Regions from separate parts of the Homo sapiens genome. Here region 1 is linked to region 2. Evidence: fine-mapped expression QTL. Tissue or cell type: whole blood. Region 2 holds a variant in brackets; the other region holds the start of a gene. All regions are shown on one strand. Distances are from middle to middle.

Region 1 (8,109 bases), 220 kb before region 2:
GGGCAATGAACCATGGAAGTGCACTAAATTAAGAATTAAGCATGATTTTTTTTAATCCGTATCCATCTTACATGGCTCGTTACAATACTACAGAAAGAGAAAATATTGATTAATTTTAAAATTATTTACAATATAGTTCATACACTACTCTCCATTTTTTCATAAGATGATACCATGCATTTTTTTGAACCATCCATAAACTGAGTTATGAGGAAGAAAAAGAAGGCAAAAAAGAGATGAACTTCCTTTCAGATAAAATTCTAGGGTTAGTGTTTGCTTCCTTTTAAATAGAGACACCCGAGAAGCATATTATTTTCTGTCATTTCAAAACGATTGGAAAGTCTTTTAATTCATTAGAATCACTCAATAAAGATTGAAAATAAAATAATAAAATAATGAGGAGTTGGTTAATTACTGAACAGCTCTGCCTCTGAGGAAAATTAGATGCACTGTTATTTTGCGTGTGAACCAACTGAAGTTCAGGTGTCCAGAGCAGGCAGCCCAGACTGCCTACCCCATGGCTCTGTGGCTGGCTTCTATTGGGCTTGAGTTCTTGGCTTCCAGTCTGGCTCTGCAGCTGAGCCCAAATATAGAATGACTAAATTTGGTCCTATTTAGTTGCTGGATTCTAACGGCAATTTTAATCCAACACTAATTATTTTTGCTTTGTGGAATAATAAATATGAATAAAACATTTCAAGCCATTATATTGTCAGATTTTGTCAGTACTCTGTGAATGGTATACCCTTAAAATGACCTTTCCATAGTGTTGGACTAATTTTCCGAAGTGAAAGCAGGGCTTAAACTTGGCGTCAAGTCCTGCAGCAACGTTAACTTACTGGAGAGGAGGCAAAGGAAAAAAAAACAAAAGTGTGAATGTGTGAGCTTACCACTAATGTGAGCCTCAAAGGTTGCGGTACTACCCTCCAGTACCACAACGCTTTGTAACGGCTGCGTAAACGTCGGTGCTTGAGTTGTCATCTTTCTAGGCACTCTGAAAAAGAAGAGAAAATAAATTAGGGTGTCCCAGCTAAGGGTCACTCTGGAGCTGCTTTGCAGATAGCAGAGACACACGTTTCTCCAAATGGATTGCTCCATAGGTCATCTGTGGGCCTAGAGTGATGGGCAGGTCTTCTCTTTTGTGGCTTGAACAGTTTTGCATAGTTCATCATTGAGTTGACTTAAAGCCTAACCCAAAGTAGCAAGTGTAAGGGGAAATGGAAAAAAGTATTAGCCAAACAGAACAAGGAATGAACCCTAGTGGTCAAAGAGGGAATATACAGTCTTACCAATGGTGGAAAACCAGGTTCAGAGTTGAAGAAGAAAACCACAGCAATGCAGGGTTAGTGAAGTGTAATTAGAGAGACAAGACATGTGATAAATGTAAAATAAACCTCTGGGCCTGGCGTGGTGGCTCATGCTGGTAATCCCAGCACTTTAGGAGGCCGAGGCGGGAGGATTACTTGAGGTCAGGAGTTTGAGACCAGTTTGGCTAACATGGTGAAACCCCTGTCTCTACTACAAATACAAAAATTAGCCAGGCGTGGTGGCCCATGTCTGTAGTCCCAGCTACTTGGGAGGCTGAGGCATGAGAATTGCTTAAACCCAGGAGGTGGAGGTTGCAGTGAGCAAAGATGGTGCCACCACACTCCAGCCTGGGTGACAGAATGAGACTCTGTCTCAAAAAAAAAAAAAAAAAAAAATTAAAATAAATAAACCTCTGCATCAGCTTAGTAAGTGAAAATTATTTTAAAAATTTTCCTTCTCCCCAATATTTTTCGTTCACTCTATATTTATAAAGTTGACATTGATTCAGACATTATCTGATTACTTAAAATAGTTGCCAGAAGTAAAAATCTGAACTTTGTAATCTCTTTCCTGACTGGAGAAGCTTTGGCAAGCCTTATCAAATATGCAAGCTTTTTGTAGACGGCATACGGTGCTTTCTATTTCTTAACATTTCTTCATACTGTAACTGTGCAGTAAATGTTGTTACTGCTGAAGTAAATATTCAGAAAAATTTAAATTTTAGTGAACAGGCCAAAGTTTATTATAGTTCTGAAAGAAAAATGCTGGCTTGAGTTCTTAATATGGAACAATTTGCAAACTTTGAATAATGGAAGGCTGGTGTAAAATGTAGATGAAGTGAAAAGGCCTATGCTTTCATAAAGTAAAATATTCAACATCAAAGAAACGAATATAAAATTTGCAGTTAAGTCATTTTGTTAAGTGCAAGAAAGTACTTTGCCTATCAGTTTCAGAGACATTATGTGAAGAATTTTCTGATGCATAAATACCTAATTATTCAACATGACTATTCTGTTCTGAAATAGAACATTTCTGAATTGTCAATCACTTCATTACTATTTTTCATTAAATTCTTTGTTTACTAAAACTTCATGGAGCAATAATCTTCTTAGTGATAATTCTGTTCCTTACTGTAACCTTCTACTTAGTTAAAAAAATGAAACCAGCATTCTCTGAGACAATAAAATTTATATTTGGAAAAATCAGATAATATCCAAAAGCTTTCATAAATTTTTTTTGTCAGAAACTCCTTTTTGTAGCATATTATCTTTGGGATGAACAACTTTCTGTGTCTAACTTTGTCTGTTTATAAGTTAGTATATCTAAAAATAGCTGTCCTCTTAGACATAGAATACCTAATTATATATCTATGTATTTACAGGCATTGACAATTAGTAATCAAATTCTAGGAAGATGAGAAATCAAAGTGTATTTAGAAGTAAGAAACCTTTCCTTTAAACATTATTTCTTACCCTTCTTAGTGTCAACATTTATCTCAAAATATATAATTGGACTGTGTGCTGAGTTAAAATGCATGAAGAGATTCTGAATATTTTAGAAAACAATTATATCATTTTATTCCAAATCTCCAACTATGTTGCAATTAACCAGCTTAAATTGATCTTACATTCCTATTGTCTAGGTAAATTTTATTGCCTTAGCACTTGCTCTTCACAGGCCTTTGTCTAACTGGGGCTGAAGGTATGCGTCTAAAATGTCATGCTCTTAAAATAAACTCTCCTAAACTCTCCAAGGTTGACTGACAGCAGGCAAGTGTTCTGTCACTGTCCTGCAACTGATACCTCAGCAGTTGATTCCCTTAAAAAGTCATCAGGGTGTAGCTGATACCACATGCATTTTATCAGAGCTATTCTTGGTGTGCTTAACTTTATCATTGAGTAATATAACCTTGAACATTCTCAACAGGCAAAGAGAGTCTAGAAAAGAAGTAAACATTTCTCTCAACATTTCAGACCTCAACTTTTAGAATATTAAGTGAACTTAAACAATTTGAATCATGGAATCATTTAGCTGATATAATAAAGCTTTCAACTTTTTAAGGAAAAATGTTCAGACATTTTAAAATAGAATTTAACAAGCAGATTTAAATAATGGGTCAGCACTGGCAAGAAATAGTCATACAAACACTTGTACATAGGCATTTAGCACACACAAATAATCCAGAGCCAGAGATCAATAAGAAAGTGACTCTACTATTAAAATAAGAAAAGTTGCTGCTCACCTGATTTCTCAAGAGTGCCTAAAAAGGGTGGGACTAAGCCCAAGGTTGCTTCTGAAACGACGTCCTATGGAGAGTTGGTTTTTCTGACCATCTCCGACATGAATCGGTGAGCCTCTAATCCTAAAAACAAAACTACACAGTCAAGACTGTGTAGTTTTGCTTTTCTATGCAATCCCTACACCCGAGGCGAGGCTGGGAATGCACGACTGCTCAAGAGCCAGGGTCTGGCCTGCCCTTATATTCACCAGATCTGCTGACAGCCCCACATCCTTAGGCAGGGCCCTGGGTGATTGGCTGTCTTAGGAAAGCATGATGGGAGAGGACCTATTTGGTAGTGTCACATACCACCTGTTCTTCTGATTGACAGTGCTAAATTTAGTACCTCAAAGGAGACTTCACCAAGGAAATAGAACTGTATTTAAAGAATAACTGTGTTGAGGCTCAGAGAAGAGCATTGGTTGCTGATGTTAAAATCCGAAAATGCAGGTTTAAAGAGGTGTGACAGTAGATAGCACTTGTGGGCAGTCATACAAAAGAGCCCCAAACCTGAGGACTGTGCCCTGAGTCAGGCCCCAGTCCTGTTCCCTTCCCCCATAAAACAAACCAAATGGACCTGTCAATCATGACAGCAGATGAGGAAATTTATCTCAAGCATAAGGCTTCATGTTCTCTGAAGAATCAGTTGCTATAAACCTTAACGTTGAAGAGAGCTCATTTGTACTACCTACATTCTCCAGAATCCACTTGTATTTCGGGGACAGTTACACTGATGTTAATGAGCTTATTGCTTATACAACCCTGCAAGATATAATGTTGAAAGGCAAAATTGGAACTCTGCTTAGGTTAGTCTGTACAGTACAATGATTTCACCTTTGTCAGATTTCATTTTTGTCTGGCATTAATATTTACAAATATGTGTGTACTGCTCCTTAGTAAGTAGCCAGGTCTTATGCTTAAATCATCCATAAGGTTCCTTTTCCAGACACATGAATGCTGTTCTGCTAATCTCTGGAGTTTGCTGTTACTAATGGGAAGTGGATAGGAGGTGATATAGTTGCTATTTTAGGACTGAATTTAATTTCAAGCAAGAGATATTTCAAATAAAAAAGAGCACACCAAAAGATCTTTATAATGACTCAGCTGAGAGATTTGTGAAACTCTACTTAGAGGGAGGAAAATTGTCTTGTTGATAATGGAAAGAGACTTTTATCAATAAAAGAGACTAAAATTTTTAATTTAAGTTAAATTTCTTTATGTCTGTAATAAAAATATTCCCTGTTATGGAAGAATTTGGCCATGCATTAAACTTTTCAATTTCTTGAGTATTTCATATCTTGTATTTATTTATATAGTGATTAATATGTTAATGTTTAACAGTTTAAATTTACTGACAACTAATGTAGTATAGTTATGTTAACAAGATGACGCCATGTACTTATTTAAACATTTTTCTCCTTTACTTAAGTGGTGGTATCTGTATTGGTGGCACCATTTCCACCCCCATAGATGGCATCTGCTATAATTCTATTTGATTGCTTTATTCAGAAACAACTGGTTTCATATTATATACTTTGAAAATTATTCCCACTGAGAGATTTGTGTTACAAAGAATCTGCCAGTCATAAGGCAAAGAAACACTAGAAATGTATGATCTTTCTGTTTTGGAGTGTTCACCAATTGGCTATCTATTTAAGATACGTTTGTGCATATTTGTGTGTGGGTATGTAGTGTGCGTGTGTGTATTTTTAGACTCATTTGACCTAATGTGAAGCACATTAATGTTACGTTATGTTTGTTGGAACTAAAGTCAAATCATTTTAATTCTTACGGGAACTAGAGGGAAGAAGTGACTATAATCTGGAAGCCTGCGTCATCTTGACATGATGCAATTCAGGTAACTCAAGAGCCAAGAAGATGGACCATATGTTATAAACATAAAGTCAAGTGTCTGTCCTCTTAAGCTGATTGTCTAGTCACTGTTCTTAGACTTTTCTAGACCCTGCCTGCCAGCCTACATCTTTCTCCCGAGCTGGATGCTTCCTGCCCTCGAACATCGGACTCCAAGTTCTTCAGTTTTGGGGCTTGGACTGTCTCTCCTTGCTCCTCAGCTTGCAGACAGCATATTGTGGGACCTTGTGATTGTGTGAATTAATACTTAACAAACTTCCCTTTATATAAATATATATATGTATGTATATATTCTTCCCTATATACATATTAGTTCTGTCCCTCTAGAGAACCCTAATACACCTTGCAATATTGTCAAGATCCTTGCCTTTAGGCCTTTATATGTTTATGTGACATTCAGAATTAAGAAAAGAAAAAAATGAATGAACAAAAGAAAAAAGAAGAAAGAAAAGGAAAGAAGGGACCAGTTAGTAAATAACTAATATGCTGCTCTGAAAAAGAGTTCTTATTATTGGAATAGTAATGGACAGTATATGATATCATGGTATGCATTAGTTTTAAAATTAAATATGCCATCGTTAGAATTAGTAAACTAGTCTTGTGGAAACCAAATACTAGGCAGATTTGGGGAGTTTGCTGATGGAGTAAGATCTCAATTTACCACCCTAACAGTGGGGAGGAGCCACACAGATAATCCCAAACAGCTGATAATTCAAATGTAATGCCTACTTAATTTGGAATGCATGGCATGATTCTCTCTTTAAGCACAATATTCAATGAAATTCAATAAATATTTATTAAACATATAGTCAGTGCTGAGCACTGGGATAAATTATTACGATTTTGGATTCTGTCATTATTTATTGATTTGACAAATATCTACTGAGTGGTGACTTTGTGCTGGGCATTGTGCTAGTGATGGCTAGGCAGAGCTGACCAAGAAAAGACAGTTAGAATTATTGTGCTCTTAGAGATCATGGTCTACATCAACTCTTAGTGAATGCTCATTAATCTGTGACTGAGACCAAGTCTAGGATATATGTAAAACTCAGGCAGTAACTCCAACTACATAGTCAGACTTTGTTTACCTTATATAGGACCATTTACAAAGGAAGGACTTACTGGGAGTTATTCGAGAAATGGGTACAGTTTTGAAGGCCAATGCAAGGATACTAGAAGAGAGTAAAACTAATGTATCTTATGACTGATTAAATTTTTTTGTGTGTTCTTTTATTGTATTAAACACAGTTTAGGCACAGAGATCATAGCAATGCACACAACACACAAAAATACCTGCCCTCTAAGAGTTTACATTTTTGTTAACACAGTAATATTAAGTGATATAATATCTGTAATTTCCTTTCCACTCATAAAATATATCAAAGCTGAAATATAGGCTCATCATGGAGCTATTTTTAAACAAGGAAATAGAAAAGCAAATTCAAGAAGTGCACAGGGAAAAGCGTGCTGACAAAAACAATTTATTCTAATGGAAGACAGTCGTGTTCTTTGAGTTATAGAGGCGGAAAAAGCTACACTGGGAATGTGGGAGGCAAGAAATTGTTGCTTACAATTTAAAAGACTTATTGTCCCATTTTTTTCTACATCCAGTTATAATTTCTTTAGAAGCAAGATCAAATTAGGTTTCCACAACTATTTACAAGTGTACGAATAGTCACAGATGCATTTAACACCACATCGAATACAAAAAGATTATTTCAGACACGTAAGATATTTTTACCAAAGTAAGAAAGATAAAAAAATTAAAGTCTTGAATGTCTCAGTAGCACTGCTGTTAGGGGCACTTGGAATTTCTCTCCTATTCTACCTGGGTTTAGGCAACTCACTTGAATCTCTGTCTCAGATTTGTCAGTTGCAAATTGGAGATTATTATCTCGACTTCAAAGAGTTATTAGGAATATTAAATGACAGAATGAACGTGACAGTGTCCAGGACCATGAGAATCTGACACATGGTAGGCATTTTGTTTGTTTGCTGCTGCCAGGCATGACACTAAGAAAATAATTTCTGTGCTTGGTAGTATTGATTTGCTCAATTATCTCTGACTACCTGATAAAATATACAAGATAGTATTTTCTAAGAAATCTTTGAGAAGTCCAAAAGTGAGCTCATGGAATAAAGCACATGTCACGTCCTTCCCTGAAGGCCCTCAGAAGGTGACATGACACTTATATGTGGATTAAAGCAAAGCCCAAGAAATACTGGAATCTTAAAAAAGAAATAAGTTGGACTTCTGAAGGCCTGTGGCAGGAATCTATAAACCTGATTAGATCTAACCACCAGCAAATGCTCATTGGAGGTGATACTGCTGTCAAATATCAAGCTTTACACATGCTGAAGGGAGGCAACCAGGCTCATTTTTTCCAGTAACCACTGCAGACACGGCACCTGGGGACAGGGATTAAGGGCTCTTTCAGGGCCAAAAACATGTTTGGGAGCTGAAAAATAAGTTTTGCTTTGAAATACAAAAAGAAATCTGCAACAATGAAAATAATGGATATTTATCAAATACCTACAAAAGAAGATATGTCAACTAGTCAACTGCACTTGAGATTGGTATATTTCAATGCGTCTGACAAGCTCAGGGATGGATTTTCCAAAACTGAAACAGTCTCTGTGGGACAAAAATC
Region 2 (8,109 bases):
GCAGCCTCAACCTCCTGGGCTCAAGCAATCTTCCTACCTTAGCCTCCCAAGTAGCTGGGACTACAGGCATGCATCACCATGCCCAGCTAATTTTTCGAGACAGAGTTTCACCATGTTGCCCAGGTGGGTCTCAAACTCCTGAGCTCAAGCAATCTGACCACCTGGGCCTACCAAAGTGCTAGGATTACAGGCATGGACCACTATGCCCAGCTGGAAAGATCATTTGATAGATAAGATAAGAGAAAATAGTTTCATATTTATTAGCAATAAAGACTGTTATAACCGTCATGTAGAATCCAAAAAGTTCCATAGAACGGGCATGTGTATTTCAAATACAGGTGTGTGGTTTTTTTTCTCTCACTCAACAATGTAAGGAGCTTTAGGGTTAAAATCCAAAAGCATAATTTTACCTAAATATTTTCCTACTCTTTGTCAGTTATGTAGTCCCCACACTCCTATCCAGTGTGCCAGAGTGCTACTCTGGGCTGATCAACACTGCCCCACGCAGGGGAACTAAGGATCTGCATGTCAGAATCCTCCAAGCTGGAACTGGGCCAGTCTTAGGCTTACCTAGAAATATACACCTGATCCCATGAGACCACGTTGGCTGTGATATGATAGCACTTCTCATGGGATCAGGTGTATATTTCTAGATAGCAGCAGGCTTCCATGCTCAGCTTGTGCCAGGAAGCCACAGGATCCAACATCATGGAAAGATCATGAAAATGAGATTTTAATCAGAGTGTGAGTCCCAGCTCAGCCAGTTAATAAACCTGAGCAAGTCCCTTAATCTCCCTGAGACTCAGCTCCCTTACCTGTGAAAATGAGTCCATACCACACTGGCCCTTATTATATATACTAAAATGAGACAATGATATGAAAGCAGTCTCTAAAGTAAGTATGCATGCATTTATGTAATGTTAATTATTCTAATCTAGTTTTATGTGGATTCTATGAAGATATTTTAGTGGTTACAGCTCAGTTACATGCAATGCTTATATTTCTACAGGCTTCAACATTTCCTGATGGCAGTTAGGGTTAGCCATAAATGTTGATGGAATAAATAAGCAAATACGTGGTATGATTTCAGGGATGTAAGGAAAACCTTGATGTTGATAACAAATCCTTTCTCACATGCGGGCTGATTAGCATGTGATTGTTAGCACATCACCTGGCTACTGTTCAGTCTTCCATAAAAGTTAGTAACTTAGCATAATCACCATCATTAATAGTAACCAAAATGTAAGATAATTATAAGATAATAAATACTTTGGAAATTACATACTTCCTTTTATAGGCATTTTATGCCTTTATTTCACTAAGAAGTAGGTTGTACCTTCCGTTGTAAACCATGCTGAATTTGATTTTGAGTTTACACATACTGCTGACAGGCATAATGAATTTCTGGCTTCAACTATTTTTTCTGGTGAAAGAGAAATGAACATACCACCACTTAATTTTAGCTATGCAAACCTAATTGCCCATGCCTATCTGAAGGGGGTGTTACCCTGTCCTATTTGTATAGGCTGCCCCTAATCCAAACTGGCACACAAATAACAGAACTAGTATTCTGATTGGCTTCAGTTTGAAATAGAAGCTGCAGCTAATGAGCTGCTGAAAACCTGAGGGTCACAGCTGTCCCGAGTGGAAATCACCTCTAACTGAAAGCTAGACCACAGCCCTCAGTGAATTGAGAATTCTTGTGTCAACTCTTTAATTTTCAGGGGCTCCTGTGCTAAAACCAAATGAGTAAAAGATGAAATGGTTCTGCCGTCAGTAGGAAATGTCAGTGACATACACAGTAACAGAAAGAGACAAAATTATGAAAAGCAACTTGGAAAATTCTGACATTGTATTGAATCAGTCCATTTGGATTTAAAAAATAAGGATTTGTGTTTTCTTGGTCACTCTTCAAACTAGAACCATTTATTAAAGGACCATAAAATCTGTTTATAATGGAAATGCCAGCTACAACTTAGTCCCTTTATAATTATGAGACTAAGTATAATGTAAATGGAACCAGATCAGATATTTTCTTCTCAGTTTACTGCAAAATAATTGTTCCAAAAATATTTCTTTTGCATAGGCCTAATAAAAGATAGTATTTTAAAACATTTCAATGCATCTAAAAGGCTCTACAACATTAATTCTTATAAATGCGTCTCCTTAATTTTTTCTTTTTGGATATTTGCGTACAAATGACTCTTCCATATCTGTTCTGTTAAATGAAGTAAATAATGTAATTAGAAATAATCTACAGGTGTATGGACCAAATAATTAATAGTAGTTTCTGCTGTTTGAGGGAGTGGTCTGTACGCTTGGATTTGTTTGGATTTCACTACCTTTTTTGCAGAGTTCTGTGGCCTTTCAAGTGACCGAAAAAACAGTCCTGGAAGCTTATCAAGAATACCATTGTGTGTTTTACTGGGGAATCTGAACTCTACCATGCTTGAATAAAATACAAAAATAGCAACAAAGAGAATAACACATTCCCTAAGACTTGATGAAAGCTAGAACAATAGGAAGTTTTTGTACCAAACAGAAAGATAAATAAATACGAGCACTAAGCTAACGTCTGTTCACAGGATGAAGCCAAAGCCGAGGAAAGAGGCAGCTTTTCTACCTTGAAGACCTAGCTCTCTTCCCTGCCCCAAACACTGTTCCGTCTCACGCCACTTATTCCCACAACCTTGTATTAAATTCTACCTTCCCCATGAAACCACTCCAGCTAAATTAATTTCTCTTTCTCCATGAATATGTCTATGGTACTTTCACGATCAGTGTCTTTCATCTGGGGACTTAATTACTCAGATAGTGCCTTGATGTTGTGACTTCACTGTTATTTAACTGCTTTGTGAGTCTACCAGGGTCATTTTGTTCTCTATATATTGTACATCATATATTTCTGGAGGCCAAGAATGCCTTTTACATTTTGTGTGTGTGTCCCTTCCAATGCCAAGGACAGAGGCACACAGTAGACAGGGAAGCTAGCCAGGTGGAGCAGAGCCATCTTGATGCTATGTGACGTGGTTCCTGCAAATCCTATGAGATCCACGGCCTCAGTATTGCTAACTGAGTGGTCCTTTTCAGTCAGCTGAGAAGTGACGCGTACCATCCCTATGACTCCCCCAAATAAGTGGGATCTCATACTACAGTTAATGATTGAAGGGCACACAGCATGCTGGGTATGGGGAATCGCACAAAGGCACACCACTGGAGTGGGAGCCCCAGCTCCATGGCTTCCTAGCTATATGACCAGGGCAAATGACTGTATATACATTTGTATATACACACTTGTGTATGTATTAGTTTCTTCAATTGTAAAATGGAGATTAAAAATAATAAGAGGTAATCATTCAGCACTTACTATGTGTGAAGCCTTGTTTCAAATTCTTTAAAGGTTTCAACTCACTAAATCCTCACATCCACCTTCTGAGGTAGGTATTACTACCTCCATTTCACAGATGAGGAAACTGAGGCAGAAAGAGGATAAGTAACTTCCCCAGAGTTACACAGCCAAGCAGCAACACTGGAATGCACATCCAGGCAGGCAGAGCATACATACAAAACTGCTAAGTTATGTTGCCTGTTATGAAATTTAACTCATATGATTTTTTAAATATTAAACAGATTAATACATTTAAAACATTTAAAATATATGTAATGTTTGAAATTAAATATTAAATTTTTAAAAGTGGTTCTCACTAGCAATCATGCAATAAAAGTCCACTGTGTTATGTTTATACATATATCACAACTTGGGCTCTAAATTTCTTACAACTAATTTAGACAAAAACTATCTTGAAAAGAACTTAATGTGCACCAACACAATCTCTGTCCTGAGGAAAACTTACACTCTTATGAGAAATATATACATATGTAAAAATATAAGCAAACTAACATTAAAAGCAATGCTAAATGATGAGGAAGAGCCTTGGAGCTGCAGGTGCCAAGTGCAAATGGCCCTGCTCTACCCACAGAGAGTCTTATCTCATAGAGGTCTGGAGAGCTGCCCTTTAACAGGTACCCAAGATTATATGAATGTAAATACTTCATAAACCATGCTTGATATACATTATACAGGCCATGCTTGTGTAAGTACCACATTAATGTGACACTGTACTGTGCATAATGAGACATTGGTTGAGAAACTCGGAGGAAACACAGTAGAGAAAGACAGGCCCGGCTTAGGTGAGGGCAAAGCTCAGGAGGCCATAATGGCATTCCAAAATGAGGACATCTATAATTTACAGGGAAATCCATCCTCTGGCTCAGTTAAAAGAAGAATAATGACACAAATCAGAAAAACTAACAGCATTAATTATTCATCCGTTCCACCATGTTCTCTTAGGAGCCCAAATGTTCCATACATTAATAATTGAATCTTCTTCAAACCCTCAGAACTGTTGCAAGCAAGAACAGCAAGGTATGTGAATACCATTTAAATCATTGCTATTTTGTTTCTTTACCCACATTCCTTTTTCGCATGTTTCTTTTGTTATTACACAGAGATGAACTGTTCCTGTGATTATGTCATGAATATATGTATTCATTCATTCATTCCTTTATTCATTCATTCCACAAACATTTGTTGTACATGTAATCCAAGCATGGTGCTAGGCTCTATGGATAGAAATATGTCCACAATCTCACAAAGATGAAAATGAAACACTCATGGTCTGTCATGAAACACATACTACAGTAGAAGTAGGTAGGCTGCAAGTTATAGAAGGTACTCAGAGGAGGTCATGGCCAGTAAGGTAAGTGGCAAGCTCTC[CAAG/C]AAGGTTTCAGAGAGCAATGATAATTTCCTCATTGTCAGAGCTCACGTCAGCTTCCTCAAACACACTGCTGTTTTCGACACTACTCAATACTTCTGTGTTAGAATTTCCTTTTCTCCAAATGTTTGTGATGGGACCCTGAATATTTTTGCCTCTAACTTTCCATTAGTCTCTTTTTCAATTCCATTGATGGCACTTTAATGTTGTTGTTTAATGGAAAAATGTTTCTTTGGGTTATAGTCAGAGCTTCTTATTCCTCATTGTGTTTTAGAATTACTGCAAAAACTTTTTAAAAAAAACATACAGGCACTCCAGCCTTTCTTTGCCTCTTTGGGTTTGGGGCCTGAATATATGAGTCCTGTGGTTTATTTTTTTAAGTTCCTCAGTTGATTCTGATGCCAGCCCAGTTGAGAATCACCTACTTAGGCCTTCCTTCCTCTTCTCTACTGCTCCTTACAGAGATTGTTCATTTTCTTTTTCTTTTCTTTTTTTTTTTAACTTCTACTTTAAGATCAGGGATACATGTGCAGGTTTGTTATATAGGTAAACTGTGTGTCACAGGGGTTCGGGATACAGATTATTTTGTCACGCAGGTAATCAGCATAGTGCCTGATAGGTAATTTTTTGATCTTCACCCTCAGATATGGTTTGGCTGTCTCCCCACCCAAATCTCATCTTGAATTGTAACTCCCACAATTCCCAGGTGTTGTGGGAGGAACCCAGTGGGAAGTGACTGAATTACGGGGGTGGGTCTTTCCTGTGCTGTTCTCATATAGTGAATGACTCTCACGAGATCTGATGGTTTTAAAACGGGAGTTGCCCTGCATAAGCTCTCTCTCTCTTCATCTGCTGCCATCCATGTAAGACATGACTTGCACCTCCTTGCCTTCTGCCATGATTGTGAGGCCTCCCCAGCCACATGGAACTGTAAGTCCATTAAGCCTCTCTCTTTTGTAAATTGCCTAGTCTTGGGTATGTCTTTATCAGCAGTGTGAAAATGGACTAATACAGTAAATTGGTACCAGTAGAGTGGGACATTGCTGAAAAGTTGCCTGAAAATGTGGAAGTAACTTTGAAACTAGGTAACAGGCAGGGGTTGGAAGAGTTTGGAGGGCTCAGAAGAAGACAGGAAAATGTAGGACAGTTTAGAACTTCCTAGAGACTTATGGAATGGCTTTGTCCAAAATGCCACAGTGATATGGACAATAAAGTCCAGGCTGAGGTGGTCTCAAATGGAAATGAGAACTTATTGTGTTTTAGCAAAGAGATTGGTGGTATTTTGTCCCTGCCCTAGAGATTTGTGGAACTTTGAACTTAAGAGAGATGATTTAGGGTATCTGGCAGAAGAAATTTCTAAGCAACAAAGCATTCAAGAGATGAATTGGGTGCTGTTAAAGGCCTTCAGTTTTATAAGGGAAGCAGACCATAAAAGTTTGGAAAATTTGCAGCCAGACAATGTGATAGAAAATAAAATCCCATTTTCTGAGGAAAAATTCAAGCTGGCTGTAGAAATTTGCATAAGTAATGAGGGGCCAAATGTTAATTCCCACACAATGGAGCAAATGTCTCCAAGGCATATCAGAGGTCTTCATTGCAGCCCCTTCCATCACAAGCCCAGAGGCCTAGGAGGAAAAAGTGGTTTCATGGGCTGGGCCCAGGGTTCCTGTGCTGTGCATAGCCTAGGGACTTGGTGGCCTGCATCCCAACCACTCTAGCCATGGCTGAAAGGGGCCAACATAGAGCTCAGGCCATGGCTTCAGAGGGTGCAAGCCTCAAGCCCTGGCATCTTCCATGTGATGTTGAGCCTACAAGTGCACAGAAGTCAAGAACTAAGGTGTGGGAACCTCTGCCTAGATTTCAGAGGATGTATGGAAACACCTGGATGTCCAGGCAGAAGTTTGCTGCAGGGGTAGGGCTCTCATAGAGAACTTCTGCTAGGGCAGTGCAGAAGGGAAATGTGGGGTCAGAGCCCCCACACAGAGTACCCCCAGCAGCAGTGCCTAGTGGAGCTGTGAGAAGAGTGCCAGTCTCCTCCAGGACCCAGAATGGTAGATCCACTGACAGCTTGCACTGCGCACCTGGAAAAGCCACAGACGCACAATGCCAGCTCATGAAAGCAGCCAGGAGGGAGGCTGAACCCTGCAAAGCCACAGGGGTGGAGCTGCCAAAGACCATGGGAACCCACCTTTTGCATCAGCATGACCTGGAGGTGAGACATAGAGTCAAAGGAGATTATTATGGAGCTTTAAGATTTGACTGCCCTGCTGGATTTTGGACTTGCATGGGGCCTATAGCCCCTTTGTTTTGGCCAATTTCTCCCATTTGGAATGGCTGTATTTGCCCAATGCCTGTACCTTCATTGTATCTAGGAAATAACTAAATTGCTTTTGATTTTACAGGCCATAGGTGTGAAGGGACTTGCCCCACCTCAGATGAGACGTTGGACTGTGGACTTTTGAGTTAATACTGAAATGAGTTAAGACTTTGGGGGACTGTTGGGAAGGCATGATTGGTTTTGAAATGTGAGGACATGAGATTTGCTAGGGGCCAGGGTGAAATGACATGATTTGCTGTGTCCCCACCCAAATCTTATCTTGAATTGTAACACCCACAATTCCCACACGTCATGGGAGGAACCCAGTGGGAAGTGATTGCATTATGAAGGCAGGTCTTTCCTGCACTGTTCTCATGATAGTGAATGAGTCTCATGAGATTGGATGCTTTTAAAAATGAGAGTTTCCGGCCAGGCATGGTGGCTCACGCCTGTAATCCCAGCATTTTGGGAGGCTGAGGCGGGCGGATCACAAGGTCAGGAGATCAAGACCATCCTGGCTAACACGGTGAAACCCTGTCTCTACTAAAAATACAAAAAAAATAGCTGGGCATGGTGGCGGGTGCCTGTAGTCCCAGCTACTTGGGAGGCTGAGGCAGGAGAATGGCATGAACCCGGGAGGTGGAGGTCGCAGTGAGCCAAGATCGTGCCATTGCACTCCAGCCTGGGCAACAGAGTGAGACTCTTACTCTCAAAAAAAAAAAAAAAAAAAAAAAAAAAAAAAAAAAGTTTCCCTGCACAAGCTCTCTCTCTGTCTGCTGCCATCCATGTAAGATGTGACTTGTTCCTCCTTGCCTTCCACCATGATTGTGAGGCCTCCCCAACCATGTGGAACAGTAAGTCCATTAAACCTCTTTCTTTTGTAAACTGCCCAGTCTTGGTATGTCTTTATCAACAGCGTGAAAACTAGCTAATACACCCTCATCCCATTGTTCACCCAAAATTAGCCCTGGTGTTTGTTGTTCCCTTCTTTGCATCCATGTGTACTCAATGTTTAGC

What was found. PIP is the estimated chance that this variant, and not a neighbour inherited with it, causes the effect.
Region 1: TTN starts here. The variant in region 2 is fine-mapped to the expression of TTN in whole blood (TOPMed, PIP above 0.99).

What each region holds. Positions count from the first base shown.
Region 1 is chr2:178,803,662-178,811,770 of GRCh38, forward strand. It overlaps TTN (titin), which reads right to left and starts at 3,762. Exons shown (of 363, transcript NM_001267550.2): 1 at 3,551-3,762; 2 at 891-994. The coding sequence starts at 981.
Region 2 is chr2:179,019,844-179,027,952 of GRCh38, forward strand. All of the region lies in intron 2 of CCDC141 (coiled-coil domain containing 141), which reads right to left. Among named protein-coding and RNA genes, the nearest start is that of CCDC141, 26 kb to the right of the region's middle. The variant CAAG/C (reference allele first, on the strand shown) is at 4,778.